Regions from separate parts of the Homo sapiens genome. Here regions 1 and 2 are each linked to region 3. Evidence: fine-mapped expression QTL. A gene starts in region 3. Each other region holds a variant in brackets. All regions are shown on one strand. Distances are between the middles of the regions. Region 1 has its middle 41 kb from the start of LRRC32. Region 2 holds the start of LOC105369397 (a long non-coding RNA gene). Region 3 holds the start of TSKU (tsukushi, small leucine rich proteoglycan).

What was found. PIP is the estimated chance that this variant, and not a neighbour inherited with it, causes the effect. A credible set is the group of variants that fine-mapping cannot tell apart.
Region 1: its variant is the best candidate, but not a certain one, in a credible set for the expression of TSKU in adrenal gland (GTEx, PIP 0.76).
Region 2: its variant is the best candidate, but not a certain one, in a credible set for the expression of TSKU in fibroblasts (GTEx, PIP 0.79).

The regions. Positions count from the first base shown.
Region 1 is chr11:76,707,263-76,715,439 of GRCh38, reverse strand. It overlaps the pseudogene GUCY2EP. Among named protein-coding and RNA genes, the nearest start is that of LRRC32, 41 kb to the right of the region's middle. RefSeq lists enhancers at 4,826-5,327, 6,976-7,476. The variant AAGG/G (reference allele first, on the strand shown) is at 3,573.
Region 2 is chr11:76,751,510-76,759,686 of GRCh38, reverse strand. LOC105369397 (a long non-coding RNA gene) reads right to left here and starts at 7,026. Exons shown (of 4, transcript XR_950337.3): 1 at 6,583-7,026; 2 at 2,389-2,579; 3 at 1,965-2,123; 4 at 1,387-1,638. The variant C/T (reference allele first, on the strand shown) is at 4,802.
Region 3 is chr11:76,778,988-76,787,164 of GRCh38, reverse strand. It overlaps TSKU (tsukushi, small leucine rich proteoglycan), which reads right to left and starts at 3,809. Exons shown (of 2, transcript NM_015516.4): 1 at 3,761-3,809. TSKU-AS1 (TSKU antisense RNA 1) reads left to right here and starts at 4,103. Exons shown (of 2, transcript NR_120562.1): 1 at 4,103-4,162; 2 at 4,309-4,584. RefSeq lists enhancers at 194-1,116, 3,504-4,148, 4,383-4,572 and a silencer at 3,863-3,952.

The sequences.
Region 1 (8,177 bases), 72 kb after region 3:
AGAGCTCCCCACCCAAGCAGTTCACAGGGTTAGGGGTGTCATGAGGGCCTGAGGCCTGCAGGGCAAAGCTGTAGACCAGGGGCGAGCATACTTGATACCCACCATCTCATTAAGCCCCTGAGATGTGGGTGGGTGCTATCATCCTCACTTTACAGATTTGGAACCTGCAGCTCAGAGAACTGAAGTCACCCACCCCAGGTCACAGAGTTGGAAAGTGGTGGTGTCAGGACTGGAACTGGAGTCCATCAGCCAAAGCCCGGCCCTTGGCTCTGCCCGGCTTATAGCAAATGTTTCCGCTCACCAGGCTGTGCCTGGCTCAGAACACACAGAAGGAATGCGTTGATGGGGAAGAAACTGAGCTGAGAGAGGTAGAGGGGTTTTCCTGAGGTCCCACAGCTGAGGAGCAGCAGCAGCTAAACTCTTGCTCTTCCTTGAACAGGGAGACCGGGTGTGGCTGAAGAAGTGTGAAGTGGGCTCAGACCCTGAGCTGCGCCCAAGCTGCCTCAGCCTCCCGAGGAAGGCAGGGCTGTAGAGGGCGCAGAAGGTGGGTGGGGAGTGAGGCTGCTCAGGACACCCTTACTGATCCAGGTTGGTCTCAAAGAGGAAATTATTCTTGCCATCATGATCCTGCCCACTGCCAATGCCTCAATCACAGTGGTTCACTATTGCTGTCACTGTCCCATGCCAGCATCCTTAAAGCCACGTCACCACCCCATAACCCATAATCCCCATAACCACCAGGGCGCAGTGTCCTCCATCAATGCCCTCGCATGGCAACTCATCATGAAGGGACCTCATCCTGCAGCCCCCTCCCTTTACCCATCCTTTCTTTTATTCACTGTTTACTGAGCATCACTTATGTGCCAGGCACTTATGTGCAGTGTTCTGGGCTTTGGGGATACAGAATGGAGAAGAGAGAAAAAGTCCCCTCCCTCAGGGAGATCCTAAGCACCTGTTATCACTAACCACATAAGCATTTTCACCCCCAAGATCATTACCATCCTGAGAGGCACTGAGGGATGGAGACAGAGCATGAGACTTGAGTCAGGAAGATCTGGGTGAAATCTTGCCTCCATGGAACTCTTAGCTTTCCTGTAAAATGGAGCTAGTGATAGCCACCTTCTGGGGGATTATGATTGCAGAGAATGCATGAAATAACTTAGAACTCTTCCTGGCAAGTGGTGTGCTTTTGATACATGGTGAATTTTATTGATATCTCCAATATCACCACAGTCTGAAATAAAGTTCAGAAGGATTAAGTGACTGGAAGTTAAGTTAGGCATTTCCCAGTGGGCATCTTGCAACTATGTGAGTAGATTTTTTTTTTTTTTTTTTTTTGAGACAGGGTCTCGCTCTTTCACCCAGGCTGGAGTGCAGTGGCTGAATCTCAGCTCACTACAACCTCCGGCTCCCGGGCTCAAGCGGTCCTCCCACCTCAGCCTCCCAAGTAGCTGGGATTACGGGTGTGCACCACCACACCCAGCTAATTTTTGTATTTTTAGTAGAGACAGGGTTTCACCATGTTGGCCAGGCTGATCTAGAACTCCTGGCTTCAAGTGATCTGCCATTTATCCACCTATTGACTCATTCACCCATTCACCACCCACCCACCAACCACCCATCTACTCACCCATCCATCCATCCACCCATTCATCCACCCACCCATCCACCCGTTCATCCACCCACCCATCCACCCATCCATCTGCCCACCCACTCACCAACCATGCAAACACCCATCCACCAACCACCCATCCACCTACCCAACAACTCACCCACCCACCAACCACCCATCCACCCACTGACCAATCGCCCACCAACCCATCCATCCACCCAGCCACCCACCCATTCACTCATCCATCCATCCACCCACCCATCTACCCACCAGCCCACCAAGTACCCACTCACCCACCCATTCACCCATCATCCATCCACCCTCCCACCCATCAACCACTCACCCACCCATCTACCTGCCTACCCACCAGCTCCCCACCCACCCATCCATCTATTTATCCATCTACCACCCACCACCATCTATCCATGCATACATTCATCCATCCATCCTCCATCCATCCCTCACCACCCACCCATTCATCCATCTGTCTGTTTTTCCATCCATTCATTCAACATTTCTGATGCCTCTCCATGCTTAGCCTTGTGCTTGGTGCTAAGAGCAGGTGGCCTAGATGTGGATTGCACCTGGTCCAGCCCTCGAACGGCCCCTGAGGGCTGCTAAGGTGCCAATTTCCCTGACAGATGCGGGAGCTGCGGTGTGAGAACGTCGCCACCTGCCTGGGCATTTTCGTGATCTCTGGGGAACCTGCTTCGGAAAGAGGTCCTGCACCTAGACTGGACCTTCAAGGCCTCCCTGCTGCTGGATTTGATCTGCATGAGATCCCTCCCTGGGCCTGGCACTGCAGGGAAGTGGGGATGGCAGGGAGACAGGAGATGCTCAGATTTCCCACAGCTGGGCTCTTTCAGCTTTGTCTAATCCAGGGATATCCAAACTGCATGGCCACGGGTACAGGGAGGCAGGAAGGCTTTCTGGGGCTTGTGGGAATTCCGAGAGAACCAGGTTTCCTCTCATTCGTTACAGATCCAATGGACCCCCATTATGTCCATCTCAGGGCATGAGGTATCTGCACCACCACCATTTCCCTCCTGGCTGCCTCAAGTTCCAAAACTGTGTGGTGGACAGATGCTTTGTGCTCAAGGTCACTGACCATGGTTATGCAGAGCCCCTGGACACTTAGCAGGATCCCCAACCCTGGCCAGCCCCAGAAGGTCAGCTCAGGGATAGGCAGGGGGCTGCCAGTAGGTTTGGGGGCCTCTGTTTAACCAGGTGCTTGTAAGGTGCAGGGAGAGGGAGATCTCCAGTCCTCTGGTATTGGTGACCTTGAGTTGATCGCTTCTCCTCTCTGAACAAGCTGTAGGCTCTTTACCTGTGAATTGGGGAGAATACATGCACCCAGCCTGGCTTGGGTGGTCAGCAGGTAATGGTGGCATGGCCCTGCCCTATGATTGCAGAGCTGCTATGGACAGCTCCTGAGCTGCTGCCGGGGCCTGGGCGCCCTGGGCGGCGCACCCTCACAGGGGACATCTTCAGCACTGGCATCATCCTGCAGGAGGTGCTGACTCGGGCCCACTCTACTGCTCCTCGGGACTTCCAGTGGAAGGTAGGTATCCTCCTCCCCTTTCTTGGCTGTCCCTGGCTAGAGTCTCTGCCTAGTGGGAAATTCTATGGCAATCAGGAAATCTGGGCCTGAAGACCACATAGACACACACACCTAAAGTCTGACCATGAGAACTTGACTTAAACCGGGCAGCCTTTTAAGGGGTGGCCTGCCCCTCCACACCTGTGGGTATTTCTAGTTGGGTGGGACGAGAGACTGAGAAAGAGATAAAACACAGAGACAAAGTATAGAGAAACAATAGTGGGCCCAGGGGACCGGCGATCAGCATACCAAGGACCTGCACCGGCACCGGTCTCTGAGTTCCCTCAGTTTTTATTGATTATTATGTTCATTATTTCAGCAAAAAGGAATGTAGTAGGAGGGCAGGGTGATAATAAGGAG[AAGG/G]TCAGCAACAAACATGTGAGCAATGGAATCTATGTCATAATGAAGTTCAAGGGAAGGTACTATGACTGGACATGCACGTAAGCCAGATTTATGTTTCTCTCCACCCAAACATCTCAGTGGAGTAAAGAATAACAAGGCAGCATTACTGCAAACATGTCTCACCTCCCACCATAGGGCGGTTTTTCTCTCATCTCAGAATTGAACAAAGGTACAATCGGGTTTTATACCAAGACATTCAGTTCCCAGAGGCAGGCAGGAGACAGTGGCCTTCCTCTATCTCAACTGCAAGAGGCTTTCCTCTTACTAATCCACCTCAGCACAGACCCTTTACGGATGTCGGGCTGGGGGACGGTCAGGTCTTTCTCATCCCATGAGGCCATATTTCAGACTATCACATGGGGAGAAACCTTGGACAGTACCCAGCTTTCCAGGGCAGAGGTCCCTGCAGCTTTCCGCAGTGCATTGTGCCCCTGGTTTATTGAGACTAGAGAATGGCGATGACTTTTACCAAGTATACTGCTTGTAAACATTTTGTTAACAAGGCACGTCCTGCACAGGCCTAGATCACTTAAACCTTGATTTCATACAACACATGTTTTTGTGAGCTCCAGGTTGGGTCAAAGTGGTTGGGTCAAAGTGGCTGGGGCAAAGCTACAAATTAACAACATCTCAGCAAAGAAATTATTTAAAGTACAGGTCTTTTTCCAAATGGAGTCTCTTATGTCTTCCCTTTCTACATAGACACAGTAACAGTCTGATTTCTCTTTCTTTTCCCTACAGCCTTCAGCAACTCTGCCAGAATAGCAGCTGACCCACTCCAGGGGCTAAGGACGTTGTGCTCTGGGTGAAAATCCCCGCCCCTGCCTTCCTCCCCAGTGTCACTGCCATGCCTGTAGGTGCTCATGCCCCGCCTGCACCTGCCCTCCATGCCCAGCACAGGCTACACAGAGCTCAGCCCTACTCCAGCTGTGTCACTGTCTTACTCTGTGACCTTACACAAACCGCTTACCCTCTCTGAGCCTCAGTGTTGTCATCTATAAATGGGAATCCAGTAACCAATGTGCCAGATCCCCAGCCCCTTGGCCAACGTGGCCAGGCTGCTCAATACCACGGGGCTTCGTTACCTGCCCAGGCAGGCTCCTTCAGAGCATCTCTGTCCTCACACTTCTGGCTCCCCAGGATAATCACTTGCAGCTTCCCCATCGTCACCTGGCCTGTACACACTTTCTCTCTTCCAGCCCCAGTGCCAAGGCCCAACTCCAAAAATGTTTCCTCCCCTCTGTGCTCTCTGTCTGGCTCCCTGGACCCCAGACTTCTCTTTCTGTCATCCTCCTGCTGCCTCTTCCCAGTCCCAGGGACCTGGCCCTCCACAGACACCTGGCACCTCGGCCCACAGTGCAGAGCAGTGACGGTGCCGAGCTCACCATCAGCTCCCACCCCAGTGGATAATCTTTAATTCACAGGAGACCCAGCCCCACTGCCTTTCTCCACCACAGCCCTGTGAATAATGAGCATTCCAGGCCCAAATTTATGAGGTGGAGGAGTGGGAAGAAGGGGGGCCTTATAAGACCATTTGTTCAACACTCCTCGGCTGCCTCCCCATCATCTGCCTCTGAGGAGGGAAGGACTGGCCAGATGGGATCTGCAAGCCATGCCACCAGTGCAAGGCGCTCCAGGCCTGGCTCCATCCAGCTTTGGGTGCAGGGACCCAGGTCTGGAATGCTCTGGCCACCCTTGAGGAGGCTGTCAGCCTAGGGCCCACTGCTTCCTGCTGTGTGCTTTCCTAGGCCTCAGGGAGTACAGGGCTCACGCCACAGGCTCCAGGGAACACCATCCTAAGCCCAGCTCCACACCAACATGCCTCGTGACTTTGAGTAAATCCCTTTTAGGCTCCAAGCCTCAGTGTTCTCATCTGTAAAATGGGAACCATGATGTCTGCCTTCCAGCGCAGCTGTGAGGATTCAGTGAAATGCTGTAGACAGAGGGCCTGGCATGCAGTGGGTCCTCAATAAATATCTGCAGGGTGATGTGAGGAGCGTGCTAAGGGGGGTCCCAGGCTCTCTCCTGACTCTAACATCTCTTTAGGATCCTGTGGGTGGGGGGTCACTTTGCAGTTCCCAAGGCACTTTCATGTGCATGATTCCATTTGACAACCCTGGGAGGTGGCTAATCGCCCCCCTTTTAGAGTTCAGTGAGGCTCAGAGAGTGGAAGGGACTTCTCAGAGGGGAAGCTGTGGACCTGGGATTGGGTGGACATCCCTGGTCCAAGCTCAGTGTTCTAAAATCTCTTGGTGTCATCCGTGGGGCATCCTCTTAGAGCCCAGCCAGATCCCACCAGAGCTGGATGCTCAGCCTCCTCCCCCAGCCCTCAGCACTGTCCATAAATCATGGCTATGCCTGGGGTGTGGACAGCATGCCTGGCGCAGTGAGGGGAGCATGAGACCTAGCCTGGCCTGGGGCAGGGGTTCCCAGCATGTTCACTTATGAAGACTCCATTTTAATGTCAAAAATGGTTAGAGCCTCTTATGCTACTATTTGACTTCTAATATCCACTAACTGAGAACATACCCAATGATAAAATCGGCTGTGAAATCAGCAACACTTTGAAATGGATTTGTTTGTATTCGTTACAGTGCCATCTGCATACCTTTGAAAATCAGTAGTACATGTGTGCATGTGGTGTATGACTGGTTCCATCAGCACACAGTCTTTTGTAAGCACATATGACTTCCCAGATCCCACACTCGGGGGCCCTCAGGGTCTAACGCCTGTAGGCTGGGAACCTCTGGGCAGAGGAGATCGTGCAGGCTGGGTGCAAACCAGGCCCCGTTCTAGTGTCTGCTTTTGACTGGCCCTATGTGGGTACCTGATTTCACTCCCAGGAGCCTCAGTTTCCCTGTCTGTAAAATGGAATGGTGACTCCTGCACTATCCCCAACAAGAAGCCAAAAAGGGATGGGAAGGGGACTGAAACCCAGAAAGAAATTTCTCCTCCCTGGCTCCAAGGGCTCCCACCTCCCTCACTCATGAGAGGAGGATCCCGGCCCTCCTCAGAGGAGATTAACCTACTCTGCCTCATGACAACCCTTCCAAATATGTAGTATGGTTATACCCGTCTTCCAGGTGAGGAAGCTGAGGCTCAGAGAGGCGATGCGCCTTGTGCGGACTGTAAATGGGTCGTCTAAAGTCCCGCTCTGATCTGTGGACTCCAGAGCCTGAGCTCGGTGTCAGCCCCTCTTCCCCCCAGCCTACTTTAGAATCGCTCGGCTCCCCCTGGCTCTCCAGCAGCCCCCCCGAGGCAGGGGTTATTTCCATCAGTTGTTAGGTGGGGAAACTGAGGCTCAGAGTCATAGCAGAACTAGAGCACTGACTTAGCCTGGTGTGGAGACAGGATGACATGTGGCCAGGTTTTCTTGAGGACAGAATCATAATGATGATGATAATGATAAGCAGGCAGTGTCGTTCACACCTGTGGGGAACCGGCACGCCAGTGTCTGCGTGGCAAGGCTGGAGGAAAGAGCTGCGCTGTCAAGGTTTCAAGATCATTGGTGGGCATTGTTGGCAACAGAGCAGCGGCAGTTGTTGCGGGGCCTGAGGGTGGGGGAGAGTCTGCCAGGTGCTAACATCCGTCGTCTTCCACCTCAGCACTCCTCTCAAGAAGGCAGTTTATTTGAGACCAGCCTGATTAACATGGAGAAACCCCATCTCTATGAAAAATACAAAATTATTTGGGCGTGGTGGTGCATGCCTGGAGGCTGAGGCAGGAGAATCGCTTGAACCTGGGAGGCAGAGGTTGTGGTGAGCTGGGATCGCGACATTAAAAAAAAAAAAAGAACAGAAAAAAAAAAGAAAAAAGAAGGCAGTTTATATGCTCATTTCACAGATCGGGAGACTAAGGCTCAGAGAGGTCATTGTCTTCTCCACCATCCCATAGTATTGTGGTGGCAGATCCAGAATTCAAAACCAGCTCGCGGCTCTCCTGGCCCCCAGTTTGAGACCCTTTCCTTGGCCACACCCAGGGTAGACCCAGGAGAACAATAATGCCACATCCACTGGCCAGCCATACCCTGGAAACAGGAGCTGAGGAATATCCTCAGGCCCAGAACCTGGCACCGCCATAAGCCTACTCTGCCCACGCTCTCAGGATCCGAGGCCAGGCTCCTTTCATGACCTTTCCCAGGACCCCAGGCCCGCCCCATGGTGTTGGTTGCCGAAATCATCAGGAGGGTGGCATCTCCCCCTCCTCTGTGCCGGCCGCTGGTGACCCCTGATCACGGGCCGCCTGAGTGCGTTGGCTGATGAAGAAGTGCTGGGACGAGGCTCCAGAGGACAGACCTAGCATGGACCAGATCTACAGCCAGGTGAGTGCTCCCCAGAGGAGCAGGTGCTCACAAAAAATGGCCCATTCGTTCAGCTCACTTAGCTCAATGCAAGCCCTGTGAGTTCCCTGGGACCTGGAAAGCCATGCAGTAAGGGGCAACCACCCAGCACTGTCACCCCTGAGGTCCACCTTTTAAGGAGAACTTTCTTAGGACCACAGGTTCCAGGGACGTTTGTCCCATGCCTTCCTGAGTGTCAAGCCCCATGCTGAGGGCCATGCTCC
Region 2 (8,177 bases), 27 kb after region 3:
TCTCATCTATAAAATAGGGGTAATGATACGCTATTCTATCTTCATCAGATTGTAATGAGAATTACATGAGATGCTGTGTGGGAAGCATTTAACACGAGGCCTGGCAGAATACTCTGCTGTGGTTGTCATCTCTAGGGTTAGGATATAGGTCTCTTTGGTATGAGAGAGCCACACTCAGGGAGAGTAAATGGCAAGGTGTCCCCAGGGAGGAAAAGACCTGGACAGTGACCAAAGTTGCCTTGTGTTGCAAACAGTCTGTGGGGAGTTCTTTGTTTTCATTCTTATCCCACAGAGCTACTCCATTTCTACACTCTCTAATCACCTTTAAGCTTCAGATAAACAACAGAAGAGTAGAGAGAACTGCCTGGCCCTTTTAATCTCCTTGAATCTCCACCCCACTCTCCTCCACAATGCACTGGCCATGGGAGGCCTTTGTTAGTTGGAATGGCAGAATGGCTTCCACTGCATCTGGGAGGATGCTGGGGCCTCCAGGTGGGCTGACTTCAGTAGCACCAATACCATGCTTCCAGGGGCAGTGCTGAATTCTTAAAGCTCATCCCTCATCTCTTCCCTACTTTGTCCTGTTGCAGTCTGGCACACACACCAACCCCATTGACCATGACTTCCTTAAGGTCCCCACAGCTCCCTTATCAAGTCTGGTGGACACATCCTGCTCAGTCTTGACTAACTGGCCCTCTTAGTGCCTCTGGTGCTCTATGCCTGCCTCTGCCTCAGATGCTCCCCTTGGCACCCATGTGATTTGCTTCCTTTCCTCTTGCCGGGTCTTCCCTCTTCTCTAGGCTGCACCTCCTCAGTTGCCTCTGAGGGCTCCTCTGTCTCCGTGGCATCCTCATTATGGCTGTATCCATGGCCTGGCCCTGGTCCCTACCTTCCTCACTCCACACCCTCTCCACCTTCTTCAGCCCAGAGCCTTGCTGCCTAGCTCCCCAGCTCCCCAGCTCCAGACCCACTGCTCTCTAGCCTTAGGACAGCTCCACTGGGATGTCCCTATGCCCTTCACACTCAGCCTGTGCAGAGAGGGACGGCCGAGACCCAGGCCTGCTCCTGCCACCTCCTTGCTCAAAACCCTCCATCTACAAACACTTGAGAAAATGATTTGGCGTCACATATTCAAGTTGAACATGCGCATGCTCTCCAACCCACCAAGTCTACTCCTGGGAATATACCCAACAGGCATGTGTACCAAAGACGCATGCAAGGATATTCAGAGCACTATGCATAATAGCCAAGAACTGGAGACCACCCAGTGCCCATCAACAGACAGTGGCGGATTCACACAATGGAGTGCTACAAGCTACGGAGATAGCTGCAATATTGAGAAATCTCACAGACGTCCTGTTGAACAACAGAACACGACACAGTTCATACTGTACACTTGCATTTATAAAGTTCAAAAAACAGGCAAAACAAACCTGTGGTACCAGAAGACAGGACAGTGGTCAGCCTTGGGGGCACATAGTAACTGGCAGGGACCCGCAGGGGCTTCTGGGTGCTAGACGCCTGACAGATTTTGATCTGGATGTTGGTTCCATGGGTATATTCCTTGTGAAAATTTACCAAGATGCATACTTATGATAGGTGAATTTTTCTGTATATGTATTACGCTTCAATAAAAGGCTAAAATAAAGAAATAAATAAAATCTTCCATGAGTCTTGATTGCATTCAAGATAAAACCTGCAGACTCCCTTCTAGACTGGTAAATGCAAGGCCCTTCATGACCTGGCCCCTGCCTTGCTGCCCTCCTCTCACTCCACCCGCCCCTTCTCCAGCCCTCACAGTAGCGAGGTGATTGCCACTCCCTGAAAGCGAGATGCTATTTTCAGCTTCTGGGCTTTAGCACGGCTGTTCCTTCCGTCTGGAATGCCCTTGCCAGTCTATTCCATCTGGCTACACCCAGAGATCCCTCAGGACTTTCTCAGCTCCCCGGACCATGAGTTACCACCTCAGCTCGCTCCATAGTTGTTGGTTTGAACCTCTGTTCCAGTGTCTGCTCTTCTGCTGGCTATGGTTGTCGCCCACCTGTCGTCCTGCCCTATGGCTGTGAATGCCATCTTGAAGAGACTATGTCTTTGTTCTGGTATGTCCAGCAAGAGCTCATGGCCTGGGACAGGGTTAAGTGTCAATAAGGCATAAAAATGAAACCATATGCAGTCACACACTCAACAAACCATTTCCTTGAAAAGAACAGAATGATGTGTAGGGAGTACACACTTTTGTTATATAGATTCCGGTTAATGCAATGTTTTAATATTTAGAATCAGGATGTCCCTGGGAAACCTGGGCAGTCTGGTTGCCGTGGGCTTTCTTGTCACAAGGGAACCCAGTGATAGGCTAATTCATACTATAGCATGAAGAGCTAAATATACCTGCATTTCACAGGAAGAGCCCCGAAAAGGCAATGTTTTCCATAGTGGAATGGTGTATACATATGGTGGCATTTCAGGCATAGTGGCTTCTTAGAGAGCACTTTCCTTCTTAGGATGGATGCCGTCTATATGCACTTGAGTGGTTCTCTAGAATTCAGATGAGCAGTGGGTGCTCTCCCAGAAGGAGGGCCCTGTAAGGAATTAAGTTGTATTTTATTTAACAAGAAGCGTAATAGGCAGAAAATGACCTTGGATTTCCTGAATGTGGCCTTCCTTACAACGTTGCTGCAGGGCAGGCCCCCACAGTCCTAGGAGAGTGAGGGGTCACTGGAGGAACAGGGGTGGGTCAGGGTTCTCGAGAAAGCAGACCCCAGAAGCAACCTGCATCTTGGACTCTGGGGTTGCCTGGGAATGAAAAACGAGAATGGGGTCCCCCTAATAGCTGCAACACCATATGCTTAGGCTGTCAGGGTACAAGGGGTTGGTAAGGGGTGAGGTTGCTGCTGGAGGATTTGTATTCTTCTCAGCTCGTGGGAAACACAGCCACCCTTTGAACGGGGTGGGCAGGGAAGCATGGAGAAAAGCCATGCCTGGGTGGGGACAGCAGTGTGGGCAGGGAATGGGAGTGTAATTAGAGTGTAATTAAAGTATTTTGTGGGCTGAAAAGGAAAAGCTGCCAGGCCCCTGAGCCAACCCAGAGGAGAAGAGGGAACAGAAGTCTTATCATTGAGAGAATGGTGGCGCCAGCCTCCACCCAGCCAGGACCACCCACGGCCAGGGGCCACGCAGGCAGAGCTGCCAGGCAAAGAGACCAGGTGCACCCTTATCTGAGCTTGGCATGGAGGTAGTGGGATGATCCCTCAGGGGACCACGATGGCCTGGCAGAGGGCCCTGCTGCAGCTGGCAGGACCAAGTTTCCATGCGGTGCTGCTGGTGGCTGGGAGGAGTGATGGCCGCAAGGGTTCCTTGGACACAGGTGCTGGCTCACTGGCTGGGAAGGTTGAACTAAGTCCCTTTCCCACTGTGTGGGGGACAATTCAGGGGGTCTCTCCCCAAGAGAGATAAGATTGGAGATCTGAGCAAATTTTAATTTTAATTTAGAAAAAAAAAATAAAGCACAATGGCCCTAAAGAATTAAGTCAGCTACATTTGACCACATATCAATTAAGAACTTTTTTTGTAATAAGAGACAGAATAGTGTTAAGACGTAAATGACAAATCAAGAGAAATATTTGCCCCGTGTATAAGAAGAGATCAATGTCTGGGCAATAGAAACAGCTCCTGTAAATCAATAAGAAAAGACAGACAAAATAGAAAACTGGGCAAAGTGTTTGAATAGGAAAGTCGAAAAGGAAATAAAAAGGATGTATACATGCAAAGATGCCCTCCTTACTGGTCATCAGGGAAATGGAAGTTTAAAAGGAACATGAGCAGGGCGTGGTGGCTCATGCCTGTAATCCCAGCATTTTGGAAGGCCAAGGTGGGAGGATTGCTTGAGCCCAAGAGTTTGAGATCAGCCTGAGCAACATAGGGAGACTTCATCTCTATCAAACAAATAAATAGATAAATAAATAAATGAATAAATAAAAGGAACATAAATCAGAAATTCGTTTTTGCCTATAACATTGACACATTTTGAAAAATATTGATGATAGTAAATGTTGATAAGAGTTGCTGGCCATGTAAATTGGCGTAGCCTTTTTGGAGGCCATCTGATAGACTCTATTACAAGTTTGTCCACCCTGTGGCCCACGGGCCGCATGTGGCCCAGGACGGCTTTGAATGAAGCCCAACACAAATTCATAAACTTTCTTAAAACATTTTTGTGAATTTTTTTTTACCTCATCAGTTATCGTATTAGTGTATTTTTTTTTTTTTTTTTTTTGAGGCAGAGTCTTGCTCTGTCGCCAAGGCTTGAGTGCAGTGGCGGGATCTCGGCTCACGGCTCACTGCAACCTCTGCCTCCCAGGTTCAAGCAATTCTCCTGCCTCAGCCTCCTAAGTAGCTGGGATTACAGGCGCCCGCCACCATGCCCAGATATATATATATATATAATTTTTTTTGTATTTTTTTTAGTATTTTGTATTTTTAGTAGAGACGTTTTTGTATTTTTAGTAGAGACCATGTTGGCCAGGCTGGTCTCGAACTCCTGGCCTCAGGTGATCCACCCACCTTGGCCTCCCAAAGTGCTGGGATTACAGGCGCCCCCCACCATGCCCAGATATATGTGTATATATATATATATATATATATATATATATATATATATATATAGTATTTTTTTTAGTATTTTGTATTTTTAGTAGAGACGTTTTTGTATTTTTAGTAGAGACCATGTTGGCCAGCCTGGTCTGGAAATCCTGGCCTCAGGTGATCCACCCACCTTGGCCTCCCAAAGTGCTGGGATTACAGG[C/T]GTAAGCCACCACGCCTGGCCAGTGTTAGTGTATTTTATGTGTGGCCTAAGACAACTCTTCTTCCAGTGTGGCCCTGGGAAGCCAAAAGATTAGACACTCCTGCTCTATTAGAATTTAAATACACATATCTTTATGTATTTGACCCAGCAATTCACCTCATGATATCTACCCCAGAAAAACACCTGCATATGTGCACAAAGAGGAAAGTACAGGATATTTATTGTAGTACTGTTTATAATAGTGAAAAATAGGAGGAAAATGTACAAGAATAAGAAGTGGTTAAAAATTCCAACACAAATTAGTCAGGCATGGTGGCGTGCACCTCTAGTCCCAACTACTAGGGGGACTGATTGGGGGAGGATGGCTTCAGCCAGGGAGGTGGAGGTCATGGTGAGCTGAGATTGTGCCACTGCACTCCAGCCTGGGCAACAGAGCCAGGCCCTGGCTCAAAAAAGAAAAACAAAAAACTCCAATATATTTATACTATGGAATGCCACTGAGCAACAAGGCAATGCAGCCCTGTAAACTTAGACTTACAATGTGGCCCAAGAGAGGGAGGCCTGAGCGTCAGCTTCCCTGGGCTGGCCTGTCCCAAGGGCACCAGGAGGCTGAATTGAGGGCCAGTGAACCAATAGGCCTGAAAGGGTAAAGGGCCCGGGCGGCAGAGGCCGATGAGAGCCCACTGGGCAGGGGGATTGATGGGGACCAGGGCAGAGACTGTGGGTCTGCAAGCACCAGGAGCCCAAGCGCAGTCAGATTGGCCAGGGCCACCACTGGAGGAACGGCCTGGGCTAAAGGAAGGCCCTGAGCTCCTGAGCTGGAGACCCCATGGGAGAAACCAGCAACTGGACAGGCGCAGGATGGCCCTGGAGAGGCAGTGGCACTGACTGCATCTGCCGGTTCAGGACGATCGGCCTGCCTGGCTGCTCCCACTAAAAACCCTTTCCCCCACCACTCCTGATGCTCCCACACAGCTGAGAGGCAGGTGAAAGGGGAAGCGACCTGAGGGACAGGACGTTTTTATACAAGACAGACTGATATTACCTAGACAGCTTCAATGATCAGATCAGACCAAACTTTCAACCAAATTAGATGGCATTCTGTAACTTTTTCCCGCCAACCTGGGGTTAGGGCAGGGAGGGAGGAGTTTGGGAGGAAAGTCAGATTAGTAACACATAAAATCACAGCTTCCCTGTGCACTGGAGAGTAAAGTGAGCTGAATTTGATGACTCCCCCCACCAGTGTGACACACTTTGGTCATTTGGCCTTCCCAGCTTGGCATGCCCTCCCTCCCTGCTCCTCCTGGTCGGTTCGGTTTAGCCCTGGTATCCCTCCTCAGGGAGTTGCCTTTGAATCCCCCAGAATGACCTTCACACCCCTGGGCTTCTCTGCATGGTGGCATTTGGCACACTGTGTAGTCACATCCATCTTCCCCACAGACTGTGGGCTCTGGGGCAGAGACTATCTAATGCTCATCTATGTTCCCTTAGAACCTAGCACAGTACTGGACTCAGTTAATGTTTGCTGAATCAATGAGTGCATAAATGAATGAATGATGACATGACCTGAAAACTGTGACCTTGGGTCTTCACTTCCCTTCTCTAGGGCTCTGTTTTCCTAGAGGTGGGGTTGGGGAGCTGGCCTTCTCTGATCAACCTGCCCAGTCCAGGCCTTCTCCAGAAGAGCCCCAAACTGCCAGACTCTCTCTTTTCCCCACTGAAAAATTCCAGACAGGAGAGCCCAGTCTACTGCAACCTCCCTGCCCCCTCTGCCCACTCACATCTTTTTCAAATCCCGCCGCTTCCTCTCTCTAGACGTGGCTCATGTCTGGCTTCCTCCCAACGCCCTCATCCTTGAGGGACCTGACAGCTTCCAGATGGGTGCGGTCACTGCCTCCTTCCCGGAGTCCAGCAGGCAGGCAGCCCGGCCCAGCGGAGGAGCTGCCCAAGGCCTCTCCCTGCCCCTGGGGGAAGTCCCTCTCACGTCCTTTCGCGTCCTTCTCTGCGTCGTCCGGGCCCTCTGACCCTGCTCCCCTCTCCATTCTCTCCGTGTGGCTCTGTCTCTCGGGCTGGGCGTCTCTGGCTTTGTCTTTGTTGCCTTTTCTCTCTTGTCTCTGTGTCTCTACTCTCTCCCAGTACCTGTGTCCCCCACTCCTGCCCTCTCTCCTTGTCTGTTTTTCTACGTCTTTCTCTCCCCTCTCCAGACTCCTCCTTCCTCTCCTCTGGCCTTCCCCTCCCCAAGCCTGGCTGATGGGTGGTTGTTTCTCCAAACCAGGCCCGCCTCCGAACCTGCCCTGACCAGCCTGAGTCCCCTCTCCCACCCCACCTCCTCCACACACCTCTGTCGGGTGTGTGCCCCAGGACAGTCGGGGGAGTGTACTGGACCCACAACATCCCAGCGCTGCCTTCCCAAGGGGGAGAAGGGACTGACTGTGACCCATGGCCAAGGTCATCTGAGCTTAGCTGGCCTAGAGATGCCCCACCCCTACCCTGCATGAAGTAGCCTGGTCCCTTCCAGGCCCTGACTGCTCCAGTGCCTGGCGAGGGAGCAGCCCTCAGAACCGGGGCTGCACTTATGCCCCCACCCCCAAACATACACACACCGGGGAATGCTTTCCTCTGCTGCCTTTCCCCCGCAGAGCCCGCTGGGAGCTGGGCTGTTAGATAGCTCGCTGCTTCAGTTTTCACCCCAGAACCCAGCCCGAGGGATATAAGAGAACCCAGGCACGAGAGGGCAAGGCAGAGAAAGGAAAAATGGGATGGAATGTGAACCCTGAGGTGGGAATCTACAGGTTAGATTCAGCCCTGTGGGATCCTAGGCTCTGCCAATGGGAGGCTTCAGACAAACGATTTCTTTTTTCTGAGCCTCTGTTTTTAACTTGTAAAGTGGTACAGCAGATTCCCTCCTGGTACACTGTTATGGGAATTACATGTTAAGACATGGATAAAACCTCCAACACTGAAGGCTCTTGATAAATGTTACTCGAGAGGGAATCTGAATGCCTGACAAAGGAATAAGCCAGGAGTCAGGAGATCTGTGTTCAAATCCCATCTATGCCTTCTGTGGCTGGCCAGGGGGGATGCTCAAAAAGAATTGAATAGTAAACAAATGAAGGGAAAAGGAGATGATGAATGACTGAATCTCAATCGCTGATCACCTGTGGCTTTGCATATATCAGATTCTCAGGAAAATGGAGACGTAAAACTTACCTTGCAAACTTGCGAAGAGAATGAAATTGAATAAGGAATGTGAAAGTGCACAGTCAGTGCTCATACACATTTGCCCTTATATAAATTATGATAATCCTAGTGCAAGACTTAAAATAAAAAATTAAGAGTCACAAAATGCTGGGGCAGTTGCCCTACTTAAGCCCAA
Region 3 (8,177 bases):
CTGAGGCTTGCTCGTGCCCTCACCCCTCTGAGTCCTCGTCTGTAATATGGTGATAATCCCAGTGCTGGTCCTAACGGGTCACTGTGATGATTACATGAGGCAAAGTGAAGACCCAGACCTGGCCTGGCACATGTTGGTATTCACTGAATGTTGGTTCCTGTCCCCAGTGAGTGATTTCAGGGACCAGGGAAGAAAAAGGTGCTGTGACACCAGCAAATCCTGAGGGAAGGCAGGGGCTGAAGATGGAGAAGAATCCACAATTCATCCCAGAGGCCTTGGATCCTCTCTCCACATACCATCCAGGATCCCAGTGTGGCTACAAGATGCTGACAAGGCACTCCCAGGAGACTGGGAAGGGTGAGCTGGAAAGGTCTCAGAGACCAAAGCAGGCAAAAGCTGCTGTGTTGCCTGTGACAGAATGAGGGCTCAGCATCAAATTCGCAGATCCCCCTGGGCAGTTGGGGTCACTGTCTTCCCTTTCCCTCATCCCTAAGCTGGGCAGTCACCTCCCCCTGTCCAGGTCAGGCTCAAGAGACCTGCTGCAACAGCCTCGCTCCTGGCCTGACTCCAACTGCCAGCCATGCTGGCACCAGAACGCACTTCCCAACAGAAGTCTGGGACCCTACTACAGCTCCCTCTTTAAAACCCATCCCACAGAGACAGCTTTCTAGTCTAGAGGCCTGTGACTCTTCTAGAGCCACCTGCCTTTTTGCACACGTTGTTCCCTCTGATGCAAAGATACCCTTCTTTGTCTACCAGCAAACTCTCACACATTTCATTCAAAAAGCCACCTCCTCTGTGAGGCTTTCCCAGTCTAACCTGCCGCTCATCCAGGAAAGGCCACCCATCCTGTGAGCGCCCATGGCCCTTGGGCTGCCCCCGACAAGGTACTGGCCCACTTCTGTGGCCATCTACGAATCTGTGTCTACCTCCTTGCCTGCACGAGCCTGGCCACATGAAGGTGATAAATCAGATGAATGAAATGTCATGGACAGAAAGCTCCCTTCTGCTTTGTGGGGAACATAACAATTGGTGCAACCCTGCAGGATGCTTAGGGCTCTGCCCGCTGGTGAGATCAGGTTTAGGACCAGAGTCAATGCTGTCTCTGCCTTCTATTGTCAGTGCAATCCAATGAATGTCTGCACAATGTAATACACACTACAAACCACTTTTTATTTATTTGCACATGTAATTCATTATCTTATTTAATACACCAAATCAGTGGAGCAAGAATTAGTATCCTCACATTTTAAATAAGTTACTTGTCCCAGGCCACAGAGGTAGGAAGCAATGGGGTGGGAGTAAAATCTGGGTCCCTTTGACTCTAAGAGGCTGGATCACTCGCCCTCCAGATTGGTCTCTCGGCCTCCAGCACCACCCACAAGCCAGAGACGGGTTTCATAGAATTACCAACCGCACCCTGCTGTGCCTGTTTAAATCCTCCAGGAGCTCTCCATTGCCTACAGGCTCAAATCCCCCTTCTCGGCCTGACATTCAAGGCCTTGGTGATTTGGTCCCTGCCTTCCCAGCCTCAAGTTCACTTCCAATTCACCACCCTCAAGACCTTGCGTCTGCTGGTCCACCATGCTGACCACCTGTGCTGTTTTCATGCACAGGTCCTGCACATGCTGATCCTTTTGTGGGAGATTCTTCCTGCCTCCCCTGTGTACCCACTGACTTCAAAACCATGAGCAGGAGGAATCTCCTGTCAGGCCCCTTCTCCGGGTTATTCCCACAGAACCCCTCTTAGGACTTGTTTTGGCCAGGTGGCTTTCAGGGAGGACCCAACCCTCTTTAGGAAGTGTCCTCAGTGCCCAGGCCAGCCTTGCTCTGAAAACTGAAGCATGAACTCTTAACTGCATCCCCTGTGTTGACCCAGGAGTTATGATTAAGAAGAAGACTGATCTGGACTTTACCACCACAAACTGTCATTTAAAAAGTAAGAGGAGAAAAGGTCAATCCCCCTCCCTTCCCTCTCCATTTTTGACTCATTTATCAGCTTTTGCCTTTCCTGGTGTTGGAGGAAGGGTAGGTGGAAGCCCGGTGGCGGTTGCATTGCAGCCTTCCTGGGGAGCAAAGTAGTGCCTCGGAATAGGTCAGGTCAGAATGGAGGTGTAGGTTAAACATCAAAGTGTTTCTGGGTTCTGGGATCTGAAGCAGTCAGCCAGAACAGAAGAGGCTATCAATACCTCCCCTTCCAGAAGGGAAACTGAGGCCGGAGAGGGAAAGGAAAATGCCCACAGTTGTTTCTTTCCCAGGTTAGCGGCCTGTGCCCTTCCATCATGTCTGCAGCATCCGACAAAGTTCTAGGTTAAAGACTGGAGTGAGCAGTGGGGAGGAGGGTGTTTACGGTTATCTTTGCGACTTAGGCTCAAAAGCCCAGCAGGCTCCTGCAGCTCTGAGCACCCCCCCCCCCCCACCTCCGGTCAGCCCCAGGCACTGCAAGTCTAGACTTATCCGAAGGGCAGGGCGCACAAAGATGAAAGAAGAATCGAAGGTCTTGAGTCACCTCCTCGCCAGGCCAAGTGTGGGCTGGCGCTGCTCTCCGCCCGGCTCCAGAGGCGCGGGTTATTCCCACCGCACGCCCCGAGCCGCGAGGGAGTTCTCGCCCTGTCCGTGCCAGAGTGACCGCGACTCCGCGAAGCTGAGCAACTTGCCAGCGCCGCACAGGGGCCAGTGGCCGTCCCAGTTGAAACCTGTGTATGTGAGGCTCCCACGGCCCCCAGCCCAGCTCCGGGTCCTGTGAGCCGGCGCCTCGGGCATGCCCAGATCTGGACTGGCAGTCCCCCTCTCCCCTACCGGGTCCGAGGGTTGGCCCCCTACCCCGGGGGCGGGCTGCAAACGGAGAGTGGGTCTCAAAGCGGAGCCTGTCTCCCTACCAAACAGACGCAACTCTGGATCACACTCTTTCCAAGAAGCGCGGGGAGGGCAACGCCAGCCGCCCTGTCCCTTCCTCTCCCCAGCCCAGGGCCGGAGCCTGGGACCCACCGCTCGCCTCTTCCTCCCAGCCGGGGTCTGAGGGGGAGTCCGCACGCTCCGCCCAGCCCCTGCCCAGCCAGTCCCCAGGCGCTGCCGATCCCCCGACCACCAATCCCGTCGCAGCCCCTTGCTGTCCTGGGACCTCAGGAGGGGGAGGGGGAGGGCTGTCTGCGCCCCCGGCCGGGTAGCGGTGGGGAGGACTGGGGCTGTTGCCCGAGGAACCGGGAGAAAAGTTTGGAGCCAAGTCGTGGGCCCGAGGGGACGGCGGGGGAGCGGGGGGGTGGGGCGGCGTTGGGCTCTCGGTGCGCACACCCTCTGCGGACACCCAGCCCAGACACGTCGGCAGGCACCGACCACGTACGCGGAGACACGCGATGCGCCCACCGACGCCCACAGCCAAGCGCAGGCCCGCAAACGTGGACACGGGCGCAAAGCAGCCGCGCAAAGCCACGGACACACAAAGGCACCGACAGCGGCGCGTCCCCGACCGCAAATCCACAAAGACCCACAAACGTGAGATGCACGTGTCCGCACAAAGACCCACACGGCCCCTGGGCGTAGCCTTTGTCTCCCGCAAGACCTCTCCCCTGGGTCGGCGTTCCCCACTCCCGCCCAGCCCTAGGCGTCCGACGAAAGTTGAGGGGCCTCGGCGGGACCCAGCCCCGCCCCTGCGCCCGGCGTCCCCAGCCCGCCCTCCGAAGGGGCCGCGAGGCTAGGATCGGGGACTTGGGATCTTCAACCGCAGCGCGGACTCTCGCCCCGCCCGGGGAACTGCACTCACCTGGAAGCCTGCGCCACAGCCGCCTCGGCACGCTCACCCCGGCGGCCCGGCCGCGGGCCCTCCGGCCAGCGCTTTTCTCCGCGCGGCGCGGCCCGCCCCCCGGTCCCCGCCCGCAGCCAGGCTCCCCCCTGCCGGGCGCCGGGTGGCGGCTCGGGCCGGCCGCGGGGCGGCTCAGGGAGTGTCGCCAAAGTGCCAGCCTCTCTCGGCGCGCGCCCCGCCCGCGGAGCCTGAGCCGAGCCCGGGTTCCACTCTAGGGAGCGTCTCAAAAGTGCGCTGCTCCCGCCCCCTCTAGTTGGCCTCGCTCACAGCTTCCTGCATCCCGGATCCCTGCCCCCTCCCCCTGCGCGCCCCAGCAATCTAAGCAGATGGCCGCACTGTCGGGAACATCTGGAGGTCGCCGGAGTACGTGCCTGTGTATGTGTATGTGTGTGTATGACTGTGTGTGTGGAAAGAGAGAGGGAATTAGTTGCTAGTAAGAAAGAGATTTGGTGGGTGGGTGAGGGCTTCCTCTTTGCTTGTTCACCGCCCCTCCCCATTTTTTTTTAAAGAGTGAAAGAGGTTCAGGGACTACCGGGAGCAAGAAACCAAGAATCTGAAGCAGAGAAAGACTGGCTGAAAGACGAACCCACAGAGAAGAGAGAGCCCGGCTCGGGCAGAAAAGCTGGCAGGAGAGGAGAGAGAAAGTCAACAGATTGAGTTTTTCTTTTAGGAGGAAACCATTGGCTTCTGGTTAGAGTTCTAAGAAGGGAAACTGGCGTGTGAGTAGGCAGCAGTTTCAGTCTATTCCCCCTGCTGTAGCTCTTGGGCTCTCACCCCTCTTTATGTTAAAAAAAAAAAAAAAGGGCAGGAAAGCATCCAAGACACTTTAAAATGAGGGTTTGCAGGAGAAATGACCTGGTGGACGCATTTCCTAGGAGGGGAGAGTCAGGTGTGTGGGTGGCTCCCAGTCTACACACCCCGACAATGCCTACCTTGGGAGAGGGGCAGTTCACAGGTGGGAGAGTTGATAGAGGCTTTGGTCTTGGGCCCTGGACCTCCCAGGAGCTTCTCCTAGACTTTGGAGGGCCTCGGGGTGCAGAAATTGGGCAATGTACCTCCTGCAGTGGCCCAGACTTGTTAACACACCCAGTCTGCTTGCTGCTTCTTTCCTTATTACTTTTTCTTATTCATTAAAAAAAAAAAAAAAAAAAGGAGTTGCTTGGGCCTGTGTGTGCATGCATGCCGGTCTACTTGGGGAAGAAGGAAGACACTAGAGAGGTGGTGAGGTAGGAGTGGAGACCACTGCCCCAGGCCTCAGGCCAGCAAAATCATCTGCTGCCCAGAAAACAAACTGGTCTTGCAGGTCCTTTCTGCACTCAGAGCCATTGTGTGGTCTTGGGGATGCACTTGGGTTGACACCTGTGGACCCTGCCAGTTAGGAATGTGCAGAGAAAAGGCTAGGAGCCTGGTCTCATATGTGTGGAAGCAGGGAGAACTCCCGTCTCTCCTCTCCATTCATTGTCCTCTCCTGATTAGAATCCCAGCTTTCAGAACTAGGAGTCCTTCTGTGATCATCCAGCTCACACTCCTTATCAGTCTTTGGGATGGCACCATGGGCCCTTTGGTATCCAGTGTCTTCCTCACTGTTGGGCTTAAAAGGGCTGCAGGGATTCAACTCCACAACCCCTGGGACCCATAGAGAGGAGTCGGGCCCCTCCCATTTCCCACCCTCCCATTCCCTCCCCTCTCTAAAGGCTCCTGGCCTAGATGGGAGAGAGACCTGCAATCAGCATCGGGTGAGGGCCAAGCTTGGTCAGGATTCAGGTTCCAGCCCTGCCACTTACCAGCTCTGGGTAACTTTAGGCAAGTTACCTAACCTCTCTGAGACTCAGTGTCTGCAACTGTAGAAGAGGCTATTGTGAGGAATAAACAAGGTAATTTAGGTAAAGCATTAGTCTGGCTCACAGGAAGCTCCTTTGTGTGGTTGCTAAATGTCTTCCGTCAGGGACTGGGGTAGAGACTGGAAAGCCCAGCAGGCTTGGGAGGGGAGGGTGCCCGGGAATGACCTCTGGACTCCCTGGCTTGTCTAGCTTATATTCCTCCTGCTTCCTCCCCTCCCATAGGGACATTCTTTTGAAGGAATGGCGCCCCCCTCCCCTTGCCCTAGACTAACGATTTCCATCCTCTCCTCCATGTGGAATTGTTTAGCGAGTCTCAAGTTCAGCATCTGAGAACTGGAGATGAAAATACCCAACTGCCCGGGAACTCAGGGAAGCTAACTCCCACTGCACTGTGTGTGCAGGTTCTAGCCAGCTGGGCTGGAGGCTCCAGGCCTCACATTTAACATAAAAGTAATCAACAACCCTTCACACTGGCTGGTAGCTGGCAGCAGTTTCTGAGCACTTTCACATTCATCATTTCCCTTGACCTCCCCTTAGGGAGAGGTGGCCTTGAGGGGCTTCAGCTGGTGGATCTCCATGAACTTTACCCACCTCCCCTCATCACTGTGCCTCCAGTTGAGAGTCTCTGTGCCTCTAGACTCTCCTCTTCTGTCTGCTGTCCACATTCCAGCAAGAGTGCCCTTTCTAAACTGCAGATCTGCAGAATGGATCATGACACTTGCCTGCTTAAAACCTTTCAATGGCAAAAGCCAAACTGCTTGGTGTGGCATTCAAGGCCTATGTGATATGCCCCCACCTCACCTTAACTCTCCAGCATCAGTTCTGGCCACCCCCTCTTACACATCCCAAGTTTTAGTCCCCTAGTCACCTAGAAGTAAGGGAAGGGAGGTGGACCTTCTCCATTCTTCATGTCTGTTCAGTGTCTTCGCCCCCAGGGAGTCCTCTCTCTGGCGAAGTTGGCCTCTCCATCTGTGATATTGCCATGTCCTTTGTATATAAGCACCATCATTTTCACCGTTCTCTTCCCCTTCTTGTGATCATCTTGGCCACTGTGACATGTCAGGGACTGTGCTGGATACTTTTAAGATCATGATTTAATCCAAACAACCACACTAGATGGATAGTGGTGCGGCCCAGAAAGGGCAAGAGATCTGTCTGGGGTTACATAGCATGTTCTCTGCGGAGCTGGCACAACATTTAGGGCTCCAGTGCTCTTTCTGTTGCCTTTTAATCTCCACAAAGAGCAGAGGTGGTGTAGCAGAAAGGCCTGGGAATCTAAGGATCCCAGGTGCAAACCATCACTCCTCTATCCCTGGCTAACTGTGGACTTTGGGTAAGTCATTTTCTCCCCTAAGCCTCAGTTTCCTTACCTGTAAAATAGGGATAAATAAGAAGCCCTATCTCCCAGGGATATCGGGGTGATCAAATGAATCAATACAGATGCAAATGTGTTATAAGCCATAGGGTGCTGTGTGCTTTTATTTATTTGCTTAGAGATGAGGTCTTACTCTGTCACCCAGGCTGGAGCGCAGTGGTGCAATCATAGCTCACTGCCACCTTGAGTTCCTGGGCTCAAGGGATCCTCCTGCCTCAGCCTCCTGAGTAGCTGGGACTACAGGCACACCACCATGTGCCTCGCTAATTTTTAAATTATTTGTAGAGACGAGGGTCTTATCATCTTGCCCAGGCTGATCTCGAACTCTTGGGCTCAAGCAGTCCTCCTGCCTTGGCCTCCCAAAGTGCTGGGATTACAGGTGTGAGCCACCATGTCTGGTCGTGGTGTGATTTTAATTGACTTACCTGAACAGCCATACTGAAGCTGCGGGTGATCTGTTGGAAGATCTCTTTTCTCGAAGAGCCCTTGAGTGGAGGTCAGAAGACACTATTCGTCCCTTCAGCCGCTTTGCTCATTTTCCATGTTTTGAGACAGGTCTTTCATTTTCTGTCCTTCATTATAGCGATCAAGCCCTGACCAGAAAACCCTTCAGATCCAATGTATCTCCATGAGCCTCCAGGATCTCTATTTTTCTTGCTGCATTTTCTTCTTTTCAGCTATCAGAAGCTGGCAGGTCTTAAGTTAATAAAGCATCAGGACCATGTGTGGAAATAGCAGAAAAGAAGAGCTGGAAGAAAAAGGATGTGTCTCCACCCCTGCCCCCCACCCTGACTCTGTAGATGTGGCATGTGGCAGGTTATGTTTTCTAAAAGTTCCTCTGGTTATTCTGATGTCAGTACGAGGACCGCGGGACATGACAGAATACCTTGGAATTGGAAGACCTTTCATGCATGTTCTCATTAAACCTCTGAGCAGGCTTCTTAGGTAGTTGATTATCCCCTCCATTTTACAGATGTGGAAACTGAGACTCAGAAGTGACTTACCCAGGATTGCACAGCTGGAACTGAAAACTGGCTCACGGACAGAACTCCAGCCATTCCTCTGGAGGGCGGAATTCTGTGCCTGGGCTTTGCTGGTGTCTCAGCAGTCAATGCATGACAAATGCTTCTCCCATCCTGCCAAATCAAATGCTTCCCTAAAT